Regions from separate parts of the Homo sapiens genome. Here region 1 is linked to region 2. Evidence: fine-mapped expression QTL. A gene starts in region 2. The other region holds a variant in brackets. All regions are shown on one strand. Distances are from middle to middle.

Region 1 (8,599 bases), 140 kb before region 2:
TACTCGAGAGGCTGAGGCAGGAGGATCACTTGAGCCCAGGAGGTCAAGGCTGCAGTAAGCCAGGAGCAAATCACTGCACTCCAGCCTGGGCATCAAAGCAAGAACCTGCCTCAAAATAAATAAATAAATAAAATCCAAAACTGTTTATCTGCAATACTAACAAAAACAATGCATATACCTAGAATGTAAACATGAAAAAGAAATGACTACTTTAAAATAATGAGCATGAAAATACCTCTGTCTTCCATAAACTTATAAAGCTGCTGGAGGAAGTTGTCCCTCTCTTCAGGATCAAGTTCTTCCTCAGGCTGTAAAGATAAAATATATAAATGTATGGCACAGTGAACTGGAAAAGATACATGTCTTCTTTTATTTTTGTGAACCCAATGTAAAGTCATCAAATTTTAATAAAGCTGAAAAATCTGAATTTTCTCAATATCCTACAATGACAGATTTTAAGTCATATTTATGAAGATATACAATGTCTACCCTTCACTCCATTTACCACTCTAACTCTACTTTTCAGTATCACTGTAAGGACTAAGATTAGCCAAGAGGAAAACATTCAGGAATAAAATGGGAGTGTTACGTTTTCACCTCACCTGATATATTTTTTTTAAAGCCCATTTAAATACTATGTGGCCCACACAAATATACTGGCAGATGAGCACAATAATGACACATGTTCATTATATCATATATTTATATATAAAAATAATTTTCATATAAACATAGTTTTTGTTATTGCCAGATGAATATAAACCAGGGATTGCAAAGTCACAGTGGCAAAGGATTTCTGTTTAGATGGCACAATGTTTTAAAGATATTTAAATACATTTAAGTGAGTCATATACATTCTATTTTACCCCAGACCTCATCACCCCCTCATCTCACAATAACCTGGTTTTCTCTTTTGCCTTTCTAGTATGGCCCCTGTACTTGACTTTGCAACACCTAAAAATAAGATAACAAAATAATTCCAGAAGTAATTCTTAGGGAAGGAAACTAGATACATAATTACTGATTTAGCTTCTTTTAAAATTCTTAAAGTTTAGCACTACTAGAGAAAAACAAAACACTGATATGTTTCCTCCATATAAATGATCATAACTTAGAGTATTACTCTCCTCTGTTCTAAAAGAAGAGCTCAGATTTTTGTCTTTTTTTTTTTTGAGATGGAGTTTTGCTCTTGCTGCCTAGGCTGGAGTGTAATGGCACGACCTCGGCTCACTGCAGCCTCTGCCTCCTGGGTTCAAGCAATTCTGCTGACTCAGCCTCCTGAGTAGCTGGGACTACAGGAGTGTGCCACTACACCTGGCTAATTTTTTGTATTTTTAATAGAGAAGGGGGTCTCACCATTTGGCCAGGCTAGTCTCAAACTCCTGACCTCAAGTGATCCGCCCACTCCAGCCTCCCAAAGTGCTGGGATTACAGGCATAAGCCACAGCACCCAGCCTGGATTTTTGTCTTTACAAAGCCATATTCAAAACAAAGGCAATGCTCAAGCAATAAATGTTGAGTCTTCGGTGTCCAGAGGGCAACAGGCACTTTAAAATTGTGTTATCTAATAGCTGATAATACAGCCAGGATCAATAAGCATGTAGTTGATCAAAATATATAATAAAAAACCATGAGGCAATCAAGAGAAAGGGAGTAAGATCTTTTATTACATTATTTTAGTACATTCATTCATAATGATTTATAACACTAAAATACTTTTACCAAATATAAAGAAATTTAAATATAAGTTCTAACCAAAATCAGCAATTTACAAAGTTAATAATCACTATAAAGTAGTTAGTGAAGGTCATTACTTAATGCTCAGATTAAGAGATGGCAGTTTTTTCCCCATGTGAATTTAAAAATCTTGCTTTTATAAAGTTAACTGCCAATGAGTTAACTCAAGAAAATAGGTAATTCAGTAGCCCAAGAACCACTTCACACATTAATTTTAAGAACTTCTAGCGTGAGGAAAAAAAATCAAAACCAAAAACCACTTATGCCAGACTGGCTCTATGCTTTGCCTGTGCCCTGTAATCGTAATATTCTCTCTTCAGACGAAAACTTCATTCCAGTATTTTTTTTTTTTTAAAGACAGAGTCTTCCTGTCACCCAGGATGGAGTGCAATGGCACAATCTCAGCTCAGTGCAACCCTCTGCCTCCCGAGTTCAAGCGATTCTCCTTCCTCAGGCTCCTGAGTAGCTGGGATTACAGGCATGCACCACCACACCTGGCTAATTTTTGTATTTTTAGTAGAGACTGGGTTTCGCCACATTGGCTAGGCTGGTCTCGAACTCCTGACCTCAGGTGATCCACCCACCTTGGCCTCCCAAAGTGTTGGGATTACAGGTGTGAGCCACTATACCAGGCCTCATTCCAGTATTTATGATCCTACAGAATTCAGGTAACACTTCTATATTCAATATATGTAAAAGCAATTCTTTAAAAAGGCACTAAAATCAAAGTTGCTCCCCAATACAAGTAAACAAAATCAACTCATCAATTGCAAATTAGGTTGTACCCAACATTTGATAAATTTTTAATGTTAAGAATATATTTTTATAGATAAAATTTGATTTATGTGTATTTTTTTTAAAAGTTAGTGGGTAACCAAGAGTGCTTTAGGTTTCACGAGAAACTATGGCTGTAAAATTGTAGTTTTGGTACAGTTAAACAAGATATAAATGAATAAAGAATTCTACTTACAAACAAATGCCTTGAGGGGAAATTTCTTTTCCACCAAAAATAAATAAAACATGATGCTATAAACAAAGTTTTAAACTTATCTGATGTTTCTGTGAAAATTAAAATTGCTTATCTCTTACAATAAGCCACTCCTCAAAATTATTTTTGAAAACTAGCCTTGCTGCTAGTCACCTTGCAGTAAAACTGCATATGCTAGAGAACGCCTCCAATTAGAAGAATGTGCCTTCGTGACTTTTGTATGGGGCTCTTAATTGCTATCACGGTTTGCTTTCTCTGTCCATGGCATTTTCATAGCAATTTCTCTGCTGGTGAAGGCCTGGCACTGTTGCATCTTTCAAGGGTTTTGGAGTGCGAGAGGGTTATAAGAATGGGAGGTAGAGGTCCACTAGACCATCTGAGACTTCTTCCCTTCATTTAGTCATTTACATTTATACATGTAAAGAATAACTATGCACCCAGTAAAATGCCAGAGATCCAAGAGTCACATTCATGATGATAATTTCAAGAAATTTCCAATTTTAGTTAGTATTAGTATATACTGCTTAGTATTATAAGTAGTTGGATATCTATCTACACTACTAGATTGTGAATTTTTTGACTTTAGGCACATGTCTTCAGATTAAGCTCAAACATCTACTAATGGTTACCATGAATCAGAGATTGTTCAAAAGCACTGTGGATTAAAATGAGAACACATGGTACCTTCTATTTTTGCTGCTCTGAGTTTGGCAGGAGGTGTAGAAAGGTAAAAGAAGCCAATATAACACGATGTGGTAAGTGTTGTAAAATACATCAAAGAATACAGGAGGAGCAAGTGAGGGAATGAATGGTTTTCCTCGAGATGAACTGGCAGTGGTAGTATTAGGCAGCTTCAAAATGTAAATAGTAGACAGCCCTGGAGCTACAGCAAATGGGCAAACAGCGTAAGCATGAAACTGACAAAGGCAGGCTGGGATTAGGAAAGGACTTTGTAATAGTATGCTAAAGAAACAAAACTTGATACTGTGGCTAGATGTGAAGCTTGAGACAGCTAAAGAGAATTAGATCAGATTTGTATATTTAAAATTTCTCAGCCAAGAATGAGTTTGATGGATTGGAAGGGAAAAGGAAGCCATTATAACAGTCCACAAGGAAGAGAACGCATGCCTGAATTAGTCCTGCCAGCTGGGATGGAAAGATCACCTCTTCCCATGAAAGGAAGAGGAAGAGAGAGAGACAGAGAGAAAGACAGAGAGACTGATGGAGGGATGGGGAGAGGGAGAGAGAAGGGGAGAGGGAAGAAAAGAGAACCACTGTGCCTGACTTACTCACAATTTTACGACTAATGACTGCCATTTAGTTTAGACATTACTCATGTGAATGAAAATGATATCTGTGCAAATGAATTGTGTAGAGTTTTCTTGCTTCACATTCATTGAGTATGAGAGCTAAGATTTATGATAATATAAATGCAAGAGTCAGAGAAAGAGAGGAAATAAGAATAGTTGAGGATGTTCTTAAGACACAGGTGGGGCCGGGCACGGTGGCTCACGCCTGTAATCCCAGCACTTTGGGGGGCCAAGACAGGTGGATTACCTGAGGTCAGGAGTTCGAGACCAGCCTGGCCAACATGGTGAAGTCCCGTCTCTACTAAAAATACAAAATTAGGCCGGGCACAGTGGCTCATGCCTGTAATCCCAGCACTTTGGGAGGCCGAGATGGGCGGATTGCCTGAGCTCAGAAGTTCAAGACCAGCCTGGGCAACACGGTAAAACCCCATCTCTACTAAAATGCAAAAAATTAGCTGGGCGTGGCGTTGTGCGCCTGTAATCCCAGCTACTCAGGAGGCTGAGACAGGAGAATCACCTGAACCCAGGAGGCGGAGGTTGTAGTGAGCCAAGATTGTGCCACTGCACTCCAGCCTGGGCAACAGAGCAAGACTCTGTCTCAAAAAAACCAAAAAACCAAAAAACCAAAAACAAAATTAGCTGGGCATGCTGGCGTGCACCTGTAATCCCAGCTGAGACTGCGCCACTGCACTCCAGCCTGGGCAAAACGAGTGAGACTCTGTCCCAAAAAAGAAGAAGAAGAAGTAGAAAAAAAAAGACACAGGTGGTTATGGCCCATGACTTGCTGGCATTCACCTTATCCCTTGTCCAAATATATAAATCTGAAAATGAACGATTATTCATTTGGAAATGGCAAAAATTCTAGTAAACAGACTTCCTACCATTTTAGTGGGATGGGAAACTGATATGGTTTGGCTCTGTGTCCCCATCCAAATCTCATGTTGAATTGTAATCCCCAATACTCGGGGAGGGACCTGGTGGGAGGTGATTGGATCATGGGGCAGATTTCACCCTTGCTGTTCTCATGGTAGTGAGGTCTCATGAGATCTGGTTGCTTGAAAGTGTATAGCACTTCCCCCTTTG[C/T]GTGCTCATGCTCTCTCTCTCTCTCTCTCTCTCTCTCTCTCCTGTTGCCACGTGAAGATATGCTTGCTTCCCCTTCACCTTTTGTCCTGATTATAAGTTTCCTGAGGCCTCCCCAGCCATGCCTCCTGTACAGCCTGTGGAACTGTGAGTCAATTAAACCTCTTTATAAAATACCCAATCTAACAAAGTTCTTTATGACAACGTGAGAACAGAGTAATACAGAGACAAATACAATTTGAAAAATAAGATATCTTATTTTTGTAGGAGCTATTAACTTTCTTAGCTAGCAACTCTAGTTTCCAATACACATTAGGAAGGTGGACAGATAGTGTCCAAATTGTCAAAATATGTCAGTAAAAGATGATGAACTTTACCCAAAGCTCCTCAGACCCATGTAACTTGTACACAGTTCTAATTGGTGGCTTGGGATAGTTTCCTAGCGTATAACATATCGGAGCCACAAAAATTGACATTTTTAAAGTGAGGAAAGGTATAACTAAACTTGATCTTTGTGGTTTCCCTATACTGTGTATTGTATGTAACAGAACATATTGTTGATGGGTATTCTCAGGTTTCAAGAACCTCTATGGGAATCCCTTAAAATTTTTGGTCAGGCTCAGTGGCTCCTGCCTGTAATCCTAGCACTTTGGGAGGGCCAGGCAGGAGGATCACTTGAGCCCAGGGGTTTTAGACCAGACTGGGCAACATAGCGAAACTTTGTCTCTATAAAAAAAAAATAATAATAAATTAGCCGGGCATGGTGGTGCATGCCTATAATCCTAGTCCCAGCTACTCAGGAGGCTAAGGTGGGAGGATGGCTTGAGCCTGGAAAGTTGAGGCTGCAGTGAGCTATAATCACCACTGCACTCCAGCCTGAGAGGCAGAGTAAGACTGTGTCTCCAAAAAAAAAAAAAAAAAAAGTTTTAATAATTATATAACACCCCTACCTTTTGTGTGTATTGGGGGTGGGGGGTGGGGCGGTGTACTCCAGTATACCACTCATTTTTTTCAATACCAAAGGACTTTTTTTTGTGCAATAATGTTACTTTGGACACAAGCAACTTTGTTTCCCCTTCATGATAAATAAAAGTAAGATCTTTTATTATATTCTTTCTTTTAGTACATTCATTCATAATGATTTATAACACTAAATACTTTTACCAAATATAAAGAAATTTAAATTTCTTTATGATGCTGTCTATAGTCCCTCTTCTGGCCCTCTTCATGGGCTACCCTTCTCACCCCAACTCTGAAACTCCATCACAAGTCCTCACACTCCTCAGCTCTTACAACCCCTCCATCCCCTCTCCTTCATCCCTACCACCTCCAAAAATGAGGCTCAGTTTGAAGGCAGCAGGAAGAATCCCCTGAAATGGGCAGATCCCTATCATGGAAGGAGAGATGTTAAGACAGCACCCTCCAAGCTCCACTGTGGGGAGCTAAGCACTGCAAGGAGTACATCAGAAGTGGCAGCTCTGAGGACATGTCTGGACTGGAGGACTCACGGGAAGGAAGCAGCGAATCCAATAGCTGCTTACATTTTTTGTATAAAATTTTAAATTTATAATATATTAAATAGTGTGATTTTTTAAAAATGTGAAATACTAAAACTAAGGTAAATGCATAGAACATTTGTAAGCTGTACTCACCCACTTTAATTCAAGTAGAGCCCTCTTTGTTCCTACAGACATCTGTTGAATTTTTAAAATCTCAGCTGTTGTTTATCATTTACTCATTTTCTGAGTTTTTAAAACTTGCGTTTTATCTTTCCTATTATATTTAATACTAACAAAGGGAATGGGCAACACAAAGGCAATATTCAATGTAATGTATCTTACAGCTCAACAGCACCTTCTGAACAATATCTAAGTGGCAGCAGGGGAGCTATAAGAAGTCCCATATCATGGAAGAATAATGGAAGGGAGAATAAAGAGGTGGGCATGGGTCACATCATGATCAGGCAGACTTCTAAAGGCCTGTGATAAAAAACCCAGACTTCGTCCTGAAGGTGCTGAAAGCCAATAAAGGGTTACCATCAGGAACCGCCTATGTTTTATAAAGATGTTTATGGATAATGAATTCGAAGGGAAAACACCACAAGGAAGATACCTGGAGTAAGTGGAACAAAATACAAGCAAGGAGCATTGTTACTCAATAACTTTTACTACAAGTGACAGAAAACTATCCCAAGATGGCTTAAGCAAAAAATAATTTATTTTATAAACTCACAAAATTATGTAAGAAATTGAGATTGCCTACAGAGTACACAGCCTGAGAAAAGAGATATTATAAAGGGAAGTTAGATATCTTATCCCTTAGTTCCCCCTGCCAAGGTGAACTTTCTAGAACCTTATAACAAATCTCCCACCACCTTGTTTCAAAGAGTAATTTACTACAACAATTGCATAATCCACATTCATTCATTTAATGAAGGTTTAATATGAGCCAAGCAAGCTCTGTGTTGATAGCTGTTAGGTATATATACTGGTAGGAAAAGGAAAAAACAAAAATCCTGAGATCCCCTGCTTTCACAGATCTTACAGTCTAGAGGAGGAGAGAACATTTTCTTAAAAGCTTGTAAAAAATTCTGAAACCTCTCTAAACCTCGGTTTTAATTATATATATATATATATATATAAATAAAGAGAAGGTTCTAGGAGATTTGTTGTAAGGTTCTAGAAAGTTCACTTTGGGGCTGGGCGCAGTGGCTCATGCCTATAATCCCAGCACTTTGGGAGGCAAAGGTGGGCAGATCACTTGAGGCCAGGAGTTCGAGACCAGCCTGGCCAACATGGTGAAACCTCGTCCCTACTAAAAGCACAAAAATTAGCTGGGCATGGTGGCACATGCCTGTAATTCCAGCTACTGGGAAGGCTGAAGCATGAAAATCACTTGAACTCGGGAGGCGGAGGTTGCAGTGAGTGGAAATCGCGCCACAGCACTCCAGTCTGAGTGACGGAGTGAGACTGTCTCAAAAACAAAAAAAAAAGAAAAGAAAAAAGAAAAAGAAAGTCCACTTTGGGAGAAACTATGGGATAAGGTATCTAACCTCCCTTCATAATCTCTCTTTTCTCAGGCAATGCACTCTGAGGCGATTTCATATGTATATATTTATTTATATACATATTTTCATAGACTGTTGTAAGGACTAAACAAACAGTCTTACTTTAAAAACCACCAAGTCTCCATGAATAAACTAAGAACATTATTTGGCGTGGTTATCTTTACTTGTTTGTATCTCCTACAAAAGGTAAACGTTTTAATAGTGGTATAATGAAAGGTACATCTTGATGTATGTTCTCGTACAACAGATATATTTTGTCACAACACCTTAGGGAAACAGCAAATAAAGACAAATTTAAAAAGAAAGCTTAAAATTTTAAACTTCAGTTAAACTTCACGTTTAACTTAAAGTGAAAAGCAAACAAAACAAATAGTAAGTCTGGCAACTCAGGTGAGCCATAGGTCAAAATGACTACAT
Region 2 (8,599 bases):
CCAACATGTGTTTTTATAAAACCAAATATGCTTATATGCGATTGCTAAAAAAGGAAATAATGTCAGAAAAATGTTATAGTTGTATTAGTTAATATTAGGCAAGACAAGCTATAATTATAATGGAAGTATAACTTTCATCAAGAAAAAGAAAGTCATCAACTCAGTTATCACACAGGTAGATATGCTTTCAGATCTATTCATAAGAAAAGTGTAAATAACTCCCTACACCAGCAATTCGTGCCTCAGAGTGGATCCATGACTCTGTTGGGTTGCATTTCCTCCTAGTTGCTACTTAATAACAGTCCCACTGGCTCAGAGCTTGCTACCATCTGCACTGACTCAGAACCCACTGGCTAACATTTTCAATCCATGACTTTTATTTTTATTTGTTTATTTTTGAGACAGGGTCTCACTCTGTCGCCCATGGTGGAATGCAGTGGTGCAATCTTGGCTCACTGCAGCCTCAACCTCCTGGGCTCAAGTGATCCTCCCACTTCGGCCTCCCAAGTAGCTGGGGACTACAGGTGCGCACCACCTCCACGATTTTATTTTATTTTATTTTTTTGAGATGGAGTCTCGCTCTGTCGCCCAGGCTGGAGTGCAGTGGCGCAATCTCGGCTCACTGCAAGCTTCGCCTCCCGAGTTCACGCCATTCTCCTGCCTCAGCCTCCCAAGTAGCTGGGAATACCAGTGCCTGCCACCATGCCTGGCTAATTTTTTTTTTTTTTTTTAGTAGAGATGGGTTTTCACTGTGTTAGCCAGGATGGTCTCGATCTCCTGACCTCGTGATCTGCCCGCCTCGGCCTCCCAAAGTGCTGCGATTACAGGCGTGTAATCTGCCCAGCCCACAATTTTATTTTTAATATTCCCTAAGACAGCCTCCAGCCACACTCAGCTGCCTGCCAATCCTATTTAAATTTTGTGGAGGCATCAATTATTGTTTTTGCTAGTCCTCTGATTACAAAGTTACACAGGTTTTATATGGACTACCTCAAGCTTATTTTTCCCATAAGCCTGTTTTGTTTTGTTTTTTAAAAATGTACCATTTTGCAGAACAAAGGTATTTTCTGGAATGCATATATAATGTTACTGTGGTAACAGCTACATCTCATTTTTTAACAAGTGAATTTTATAACATGCAAAATCATTCTTTCTACTGGTTGTAATTTCTAATCTGCCAAATTAGCTGTGGCAAGAAACTTTTTGAAAGTTTGTTTTCAAAATTCTCTGGGTTTTGAAACTGTAAATAAGGGAATAAATATCTGATATATTATAAATAATAAAATAATTCAGTGGTTATAAGACTTATAAAAGTATTTTACTGAAGTTAAAATTTTTCTCTTGATATATGATTCCATTTACATAAAATGTACAGAAAAGACAAATCTATAGAAACAGAAGGTACACCCTAATGGGCTGAGGATAGGAATGAGGATTAATTGTAAACGGGTATTAGGGATTTTACTGGGGTGATGAAAACATTCTAAAACTGGATTGTGGTGGTACTTGTACAACATGATATACTTATGGTGTGCAAAATTAGACCTTGATAAAGTTGATTTAAAAAGAAAAACTTTTCCTTGGAAATATAGCCACAAAGTATATATTTAGTACTGTTTCTTGTTTCTTTTTTTTTTTTTTTTTTTGAGACGAAGTCTTGCTCTTGCCCCCCAGGCTGGAGTGCGATGGCTTGATTTTGGCTCACTGCAACCTCCGCCTCCCGGGTTCAAGCAATTCTCCTGCCTCGGCCCCCTGAGGAGCTGGGATTAGAGGTGCCTGCCACCACTCCCGGCTAATTTTTGTATTTTTAGTTGAGACAGGGTTTCACCATGTTGTCCAGGCTGGTCTCAAACTCCTGATCTCAGGTGATCCACCCGCCTCAGCCACCCAAAGTGTTGGGATTACAGGCGTGAGCCACCACGGCTGGCCTTTAGTACTGTTTTAATCAATCTTACTTGAAGTCATATTTTAAAACATTTTATAGTATGGCATTTATTTTGCTAATATTTTTTTTTAAATACCTTAGGCATCCCAGCTCTTTTTATCACACTAGGAATTATACATCTTGGACCAGTTTCTCCAGCAAATCCACACCTGCAAATAAATGGAAAATTGAAACAACTTATAGTATTCTTTTAAATATTTGTCACAGAAACTAATTTTCTCTGTATTTGTTTCAAAACAATGGCCACAATAACATTTGAAAATACCTGATGTATTTTAAGGGATCAAAAAAAATCACTCCACAAAACTAATAATACTATTTATTAATGCTTGTGTATTAACAGAAAAAAATTCTATGAAATTCGTGATGCTGAAAAAAACAAATGTATTATTTTAGGGCAGCATTTACTTTTTTTTTTTTGAGATGGAGTCTGGCTCTGTCACCCAGGCTGGAGTGCAGTGGCGCGATCTCGGCTCACTGCAAGCTCCGCCTCCCGGGTTCACGCCATTCTCCTGCCTCAGGCTCCTGAGTAGCTGGGACTACAGGTGCCGGCCACCACGCAGGGCTAATTTTTTTTTTTTTTTTTAGTAGAGACGAGGTTTCACCGTGTTAGCCAGGATAGTCTCGATCTCCTGACCTCGTGACCCGCCCGCGTCGGCCTCCCAAAGTGCTGGTATTACAGGCGTGGGCCACCGCGCCTGGCCAACTTTTTTCCTAGTTGTTAATTTTAGCAGAATTTAGGCAAGACATATCTACAACTCTGAATCTGTACTACATTATGTGACTTCATTCATATAATTCATCTGTATCACTCATAATTCCATCATTCTAATATTGTTAGCTTCCATATTGGTGTATTCACTTTCAGTCTACTTCTTATGATTATGCATATATATTTGACATAGTTTTAATCACACTTCATACATAATTAACTCATACAGTAAGCTTCTGCCCATATTAACATAATCTTCATTGCTATCACTTTTTTTTTTTTTTTTTTTGAGGCAGGGTCTCGCTCTGTCGCCCAGGCTGGAGTGCAGTGGCACAAACTCAGATCACTGCAGCCTCCGCTTCCCAGGCTCAAGCGATCCTCCCCCCTTGGCCTCCCAAAGTGCTAGGATTTCGGGCACGACACTACCGCCGGCTAAATTTTGTATTTTGTGTAGAGCTGGGTTTCCCCATGTTGCCCAGGCTGGTCTTGAACTACTGGGCTCAAGTGGTCAGCCCGCCTCAGCTTTCCAAACTGCTGGAATTACAGTATTATTTTTAAAACCACATATTTCATTATTTTAAAAACGATGCTCTTTTCTTGAGTATTTAGGTATTTCCATTTTTGTTTCATGTTAGTAAAACAAAAATTTGCTAAAAACGTTGCTAAAAATGATCATCATACTAGTTTAGTCTTAACATCCTGTCTTCTTGTCCTGTCTAGTTTTTGATACTGCTCTCCTCGTATTCCCAAATAATTCTCTCCATCTCCTCCTATTCCCGTCTCCATGTTTACTTGCATCAGTGCTCCTCAAACATCTCAGAATGCAAGCCATTAGACTTCAATTCCTTTTTTTTACTTCATACATTTATCTTATCATCCTCCTGCTGTCTTTTTCAAATATAGCTTTTTGCTTATTTCTTCCAAGTACAGCCAAAATAATTATCTTTGACTAGAAGCCTCGAACTGTTTATTACGCTTTCAAAATAATTTTAATAAGAAAATATAAATAAGGAAGGGCCTCGCATAGAACAATAAGAGAATGTCATTAACCAAGGACTATGTTTAATCCAATTCTGGAGTTCCTGGGGTCCAATTTTTAAATAGGCTCTTTTAACCACTTAGTCAATAAATAGTTATTAAATACCTACTACACGTCAGGAAGTGCCTAGAGATATAAAAAGATTTTTCAAATGTTTCATTTTCATAAATACATATATGATGTAATTGCCTGTTACTTCCCTCTCTGTTGAGCCCATCACAAGGACTCTTAATCTAGGGTCCCAGGACCACATTGATTGTCTGCCAATTCCCTGAAACTGTGTATAAGTACCTTAAGATTTGTGCATTTGTGGTTTTCATCCAGCCATTAAAGAGATCTATGCCATCCGAAAGGTTGAGAACCTCCTCTCTATTGTTTACAAGTTGGTTTGTTTAAAACATGTCAAATCTAACCTTCGAGTTTAGGGGAGCCAACAAAGGATTTCCAGAATCTTATCTATAGGGTTTCACCTCTTAATGTGCCCAGTCTCCCTAATTCTTGAGCAGCGATAGCCCTGTCTTAAACATCTTTCCATTTTCAGCACCAAAATAAACTCCGTTCAATATTTTATGATGAAATTCGTCATCGAGCATTTACATTCGGTTGGCTGCCTTCCTCAACTGAGGAGCCCAGGGTAAGCGGGGTCTAGGTCACGGTTGTCATCCCCTACACAGATGATCCCAAAGGGTTTGTTGGGTTTGGGGTGATGACAAGGGGCGGCGACGAGGGCAATTCAACAGAAGCTTTCTGGGCCTCTCTGGGAGTCAGACCCCGATCCTCGGATTCGCATCGCCCAGGGAGGAAATAATAAGAGCTGTTATTTGCAAGGGCGCTGGTTGAAGAAAAGGGGAGGCCCGGAGCTGCCCAGCGAGTCGGCGATGAGGACCCAGGCAGTGCCTGGGGCTCTGCCACCCGCCCTCCCCTCGGGTCGAACACAGCTGGCGTCACGGCCACTCACTTGGTAAAGGCCTCTCCCAGGTCGATCACGACCGCCGTCTTCTCCCCGCCGCTCCCCAGGCCCTCGTAGAGCGGCATGGTAGTAAGGCAGACTGAGAGAAGAGGGTCGCAGTCTCCGCGGCCAACAAGTCTCGGCGCTCGCGGGGCGGGGCCGGGGCTCCGGCGCTCGGGCGTCGGCGACGGCGGGGGCCTCGCGCGGCCGCGGCGCGCCGGGCCCGGGCTGTCCCAGGCTGTGCCTCATTCCGCGTTGGACCCACCCTTGCAGGTGCTGCCGTCGCCAGGACTAGGGGAAAAGAGGCGCTGGCGGGCGCGAATCCGAGTGCGGGGGCGCGGAGGCCGCGGCGATCAGGCGCGCCGGTCGCCCTGAGGGGGCGGAGCCGGCCTCCCTATCCTTCCCTCCCACCACGCCCCAAAGCCGCACCCACGCGCGGCTGTGAAGAGGTTCGGTCTCAGCTCACTGTGAAGAGGTCACTGAGGACCTGGCTGCCAAGGGGCAGCCGAGAGACGACGCAATTCCGAACCTTTGATTCATGCTCTTGGGGGGCAGAAGATGCTGAGACCCTATTCTGTGCTAGGCGTTTTGCCTAATATTTAATCTTCTCAAGAAATAACAAGAATATGTGTTTTCTTATCTGTGGGGACCGACGCTCAGAGAGATTAACTTTCCCAATGTCCCACGGCAGAGCCAGGAACAAACCCACAGACTTCCTAATTGCAAAGCCTATGCTAATGATGCTTTAGAGAATAATACGTACAGACAATACTTTAGTTAGTAGTCTTTCTGAAAGTTTTTATTTTACTCCAGAATTAAGCAGCTAGAGTAGCGTCTGTGAATCTTGAATCTGTCCATAGAGGAGCGGTCGGGATGGTTTAATAGAAGAAACATTGAAGCAAAGGCCCCTATTAGGTTGGTGCAAAAGTAATTGCTGTTTTTGCCACTACTTTTAACATTTACATTACTGTTTACATCTTTGTCACTTCACAGCTTTCTGTGAAAATATTTTTTTCCTGCAAATATTAGCTCTAACTGTATCTATGCATAGGAGTGGAAAAGACTGTCAAAGGAGAGGCTGTGCAATAAGAAAAGAGGTTCAAGGGTAAATCGGTGAGGACTAGCAACATTTAGCTGGTGTACTGGGTTGAATGATGCCCCCCCCCCCAAAATTCTTGTCCACTGGGAACCTCAGAATGTGACCCTATTTGGAAATAGAGTCTTGGCAGATGTAATCAAGTTAAGATGAGGTTATACTGTATTAAGATGTCCCAACTGTCCGAGCGCAGGATCACACCTGTAATCCCAGCACTTTGGGAGGCCGAAGCGGGAGGATCCCTTGAGCCCAAGAAGTCTAAAGCGGCAGTGAGTCGGGATTGTGCCGCTGCACTCCAGCCTGGGCAACAACAAGAGTGAGAGCCTGTCTCTCAAAAAAAAAAAAAAAAAAAAAAAAGGCCCTACTCTAATGGTTGGTAACTAGAGTTAGCGGGGTAGTTGGGGATAAGCTATTTCCATAACAAAAACTAAGGCTGTAACAATGCAGAAATTTGGAATGTGATATTAGTAAAATTCATGTTTAAGTCCAAATTACTGATCAATGATCCTCCTTGAAAGCAAATTCCTGGAGACAGGAGAATGAAGTTGGAGTTGTGACGGGGAAGAAAACTTTAAGAAACGTGGGAAGAGATTAAATTTTTTGCTTAATAGAGTCAGATTATTTGAATAGGACCCCTTACTTGAGTTCAGATTCTGTTTCTGCCACTTTCTGTCAAGTCCCTAATACCTCTGATCGTCCACTTCCTTATCTGTAAACTGTTCTGCTGCTTCACAAGGTATTTGTAAGGATCAATTTGAAATTATGTTTCTGAAACTATTGAAATGATGAAGTTTGTTATTACCTATTCTATGTTTTCCATGACAGCTCACCAGCTGTATTTGTTAGCTAGGGACTGCCGTAACAAAGTACCACAAACGGTGGTTCAAGGAAACAAAAAATTTATTCTTTCACACTTCTGGAGGTGAGAAGTCAGAAATCAAGGTGTCAGCAAGAGCAAGGTCATGCCCTCTTTGAAGGCTCTTGAGGAGGATCCTTTCTTGTCTTTTTTTTTTTTTCTTTTTTTGAGATGGAGTCTCGCTCTGTCACCCAGGTTCGATCTCAGCTCACTGCAGCCTCCGCCCCACCAGGTTCAAGTGATTCTTCTGCCTCAGCCTCTGGAGCAGCCGGGATTACAGGCACCTGCCACCACGCCCAACTATTTTTTTTTGTTTGTTTTGGATTTTTAGTAAAGATAGGGTTTCACCATGTTGGCCAGGCTGGTCTCGAACTCCTAACCTCAGGTGATCTGCCTGCCTTGGCCTCTCGAAGTGCTGGGATTACACCGCGCCCAGCTTTTTTTTTTTTTTTTTTTTTTTTTAACAGAGTCTCGTTCTGTCATCCAGGCTGGAGTGCAGTGGTGCAACCTTGGCTCACTGAACCCCAGACTGGGCTCAAGCAATTCTCCTGCCTCACCTTCCCAAGTAGCTGGGACTGCAGGCATGTGCCACCTTGCGTGGCTAATTTTAACATCTTTTGTAGAGATGGGTTTCACCGTGTTGCCCAGGCTGGTCTTAAACTACTGAGCTCCGGTGATCCGCCTTCCTAAGCCTCCCAAAGTGCTGAGATAACAGGCATGAGCCACCGTGCCTGGCCTTCTTTCTTGCCTTTTCCTAGCTTCTGGTGGTTGCTGGCAATCTTTGATGTGCCTTTGCTTGTAGATACATAACTCCAATCTCTGCCTCTGTCATCACTTGGCCTTCTTCGCTGTGTCTGCATTTTTCACATTATGTACTCCTCCCTGTGTCTTCACATCACTTTCCTTCTGTGTGTGTCTCTGTGTCCAGATTTCCCTCCTTTTTTCTTAATTGTTTTCTTTTTTATTTTTTCTGTATTCGGCTGAACAAATTTCCCTCTTCTTGTTTATTTTTATTTTTATTTTTTTTGAGACGGAGTTTCACTCTTGTCGCCCAGGCTGGAGTGCAGTGGCGCGATCTCAGCTCACTGCAACCTCTGCCACCTAGGTTCAAGCAATTCTCCTGCCTCAGCCTCCCAAGTAGCTGGGATTACAGGCACCTGCCACCATGCCTGGCTAATTTTTTGTATTTTTAGTAGAGATGGGATTTTGCCATGTTGGCCAGGCTGGTCTCGACTCCTGACTTCAAGTGACCCGCCCGCCTCGGCCTCCCAAAGTGCTGGGATTACAGGCATGAGCCTCTGTGCCCGGCCTCCCTCTTCTTCTGAGGATATCAGTTACTGGCTCAGGGTCCATCTTAACCCAGTATGACTTCATCTTAACTTGATTACATTTGCAAAGGATCTAATTCCAAATATAGTCACATTCTAAGATTTCTGTTCACACGAATTTTGGGGAGGACACTATTCAACCCAGTACACAACCTAAATGTTGTTGTTCTCCATGGTTCTGCTCTTGAACCTCTTTTCTTATTGTACACCCTCTCCTTTGCCAATCTCTTCCACTCCCATAGATACAGCTAGAGATAATATTTGTTGAGTTCTATTTGCTAGCTCTCCTTGCTATATATGATCCCATTTATTCCTCACAGCAACTTTATGAGTTAAGTGTTATTGTTACTAGAAAGGGGTCTCAATCCAGACCCCAAAAGTGTTCTTAGACCTCGCACAAGAAATAGTTCGGGGCAAGTCCATAGAGTAAAATGAAAACAAGTTTATTAAGAAAGTAAAGGAATAAAAGAATGGCTACTCATAGGCAGAGCAGCAGCGTGAGCTGCTTAACTGCTTATACTTATCATTACTTCTTGATTATATGCTAAACAAGGGGTGGATTATTCATGGATTTTCTGGGAAAGGGTTGAGCAATTCCTGGAACTGAGGGTTTCTCCCCCTTTTAGACTACATAGGGTAACTTCCTGATGTTGCCATGGCATTTGTAACTGTTG

Which allele goes with the higher level. Positions count from the first base shown, and alleles are read on the strand shown. Sizes are in standard deviations (SD) of each study's normalised expression.
In carriers of allele T in region 1, the expression in cerebellar hemisphere of the gene that starts at base 4,800 in region 2 tends to be lower than with C alone (moderate effect, 0.57 SD a copy in GTEx).

What was found.
Region 1: its variant is fine-mapped to the expression of ACTR10 in cerebellar hemisphere (GTEx, PIP 0.93).

Annotation. Positions count from the first base shown.
Region 1 is chr14:58,336,404-58,345,002 of GRCh38, reverse strand. ARID4A (AT-rich interaction domain 4A) reads right to left here. Exons shown (of 24, transcript NM_002892.4): 12 at 236-308. Among named protein-coding and RNA genes, the nearest start is that of ARID4A, 42 kb to the right of the region's middle. The variant C/T (reference allele first, on the strand shown) is at 5,119.
Region 2 is chr14:58,196,350-58,204,948 of GRCh38, reverse strand. ACTR10 (actin related protein 10) reads right to left here and starts at 4,800. Exons shown (of 13, transcript NM_018477.3): 1 at 4,655-4,800; 2 at 2,022-2,094. The coding sequence starts at 4,731. RefSeq lists enhancers at 4,418-4,607, 5,228-5,357 and a silencer at 4,768-5,157.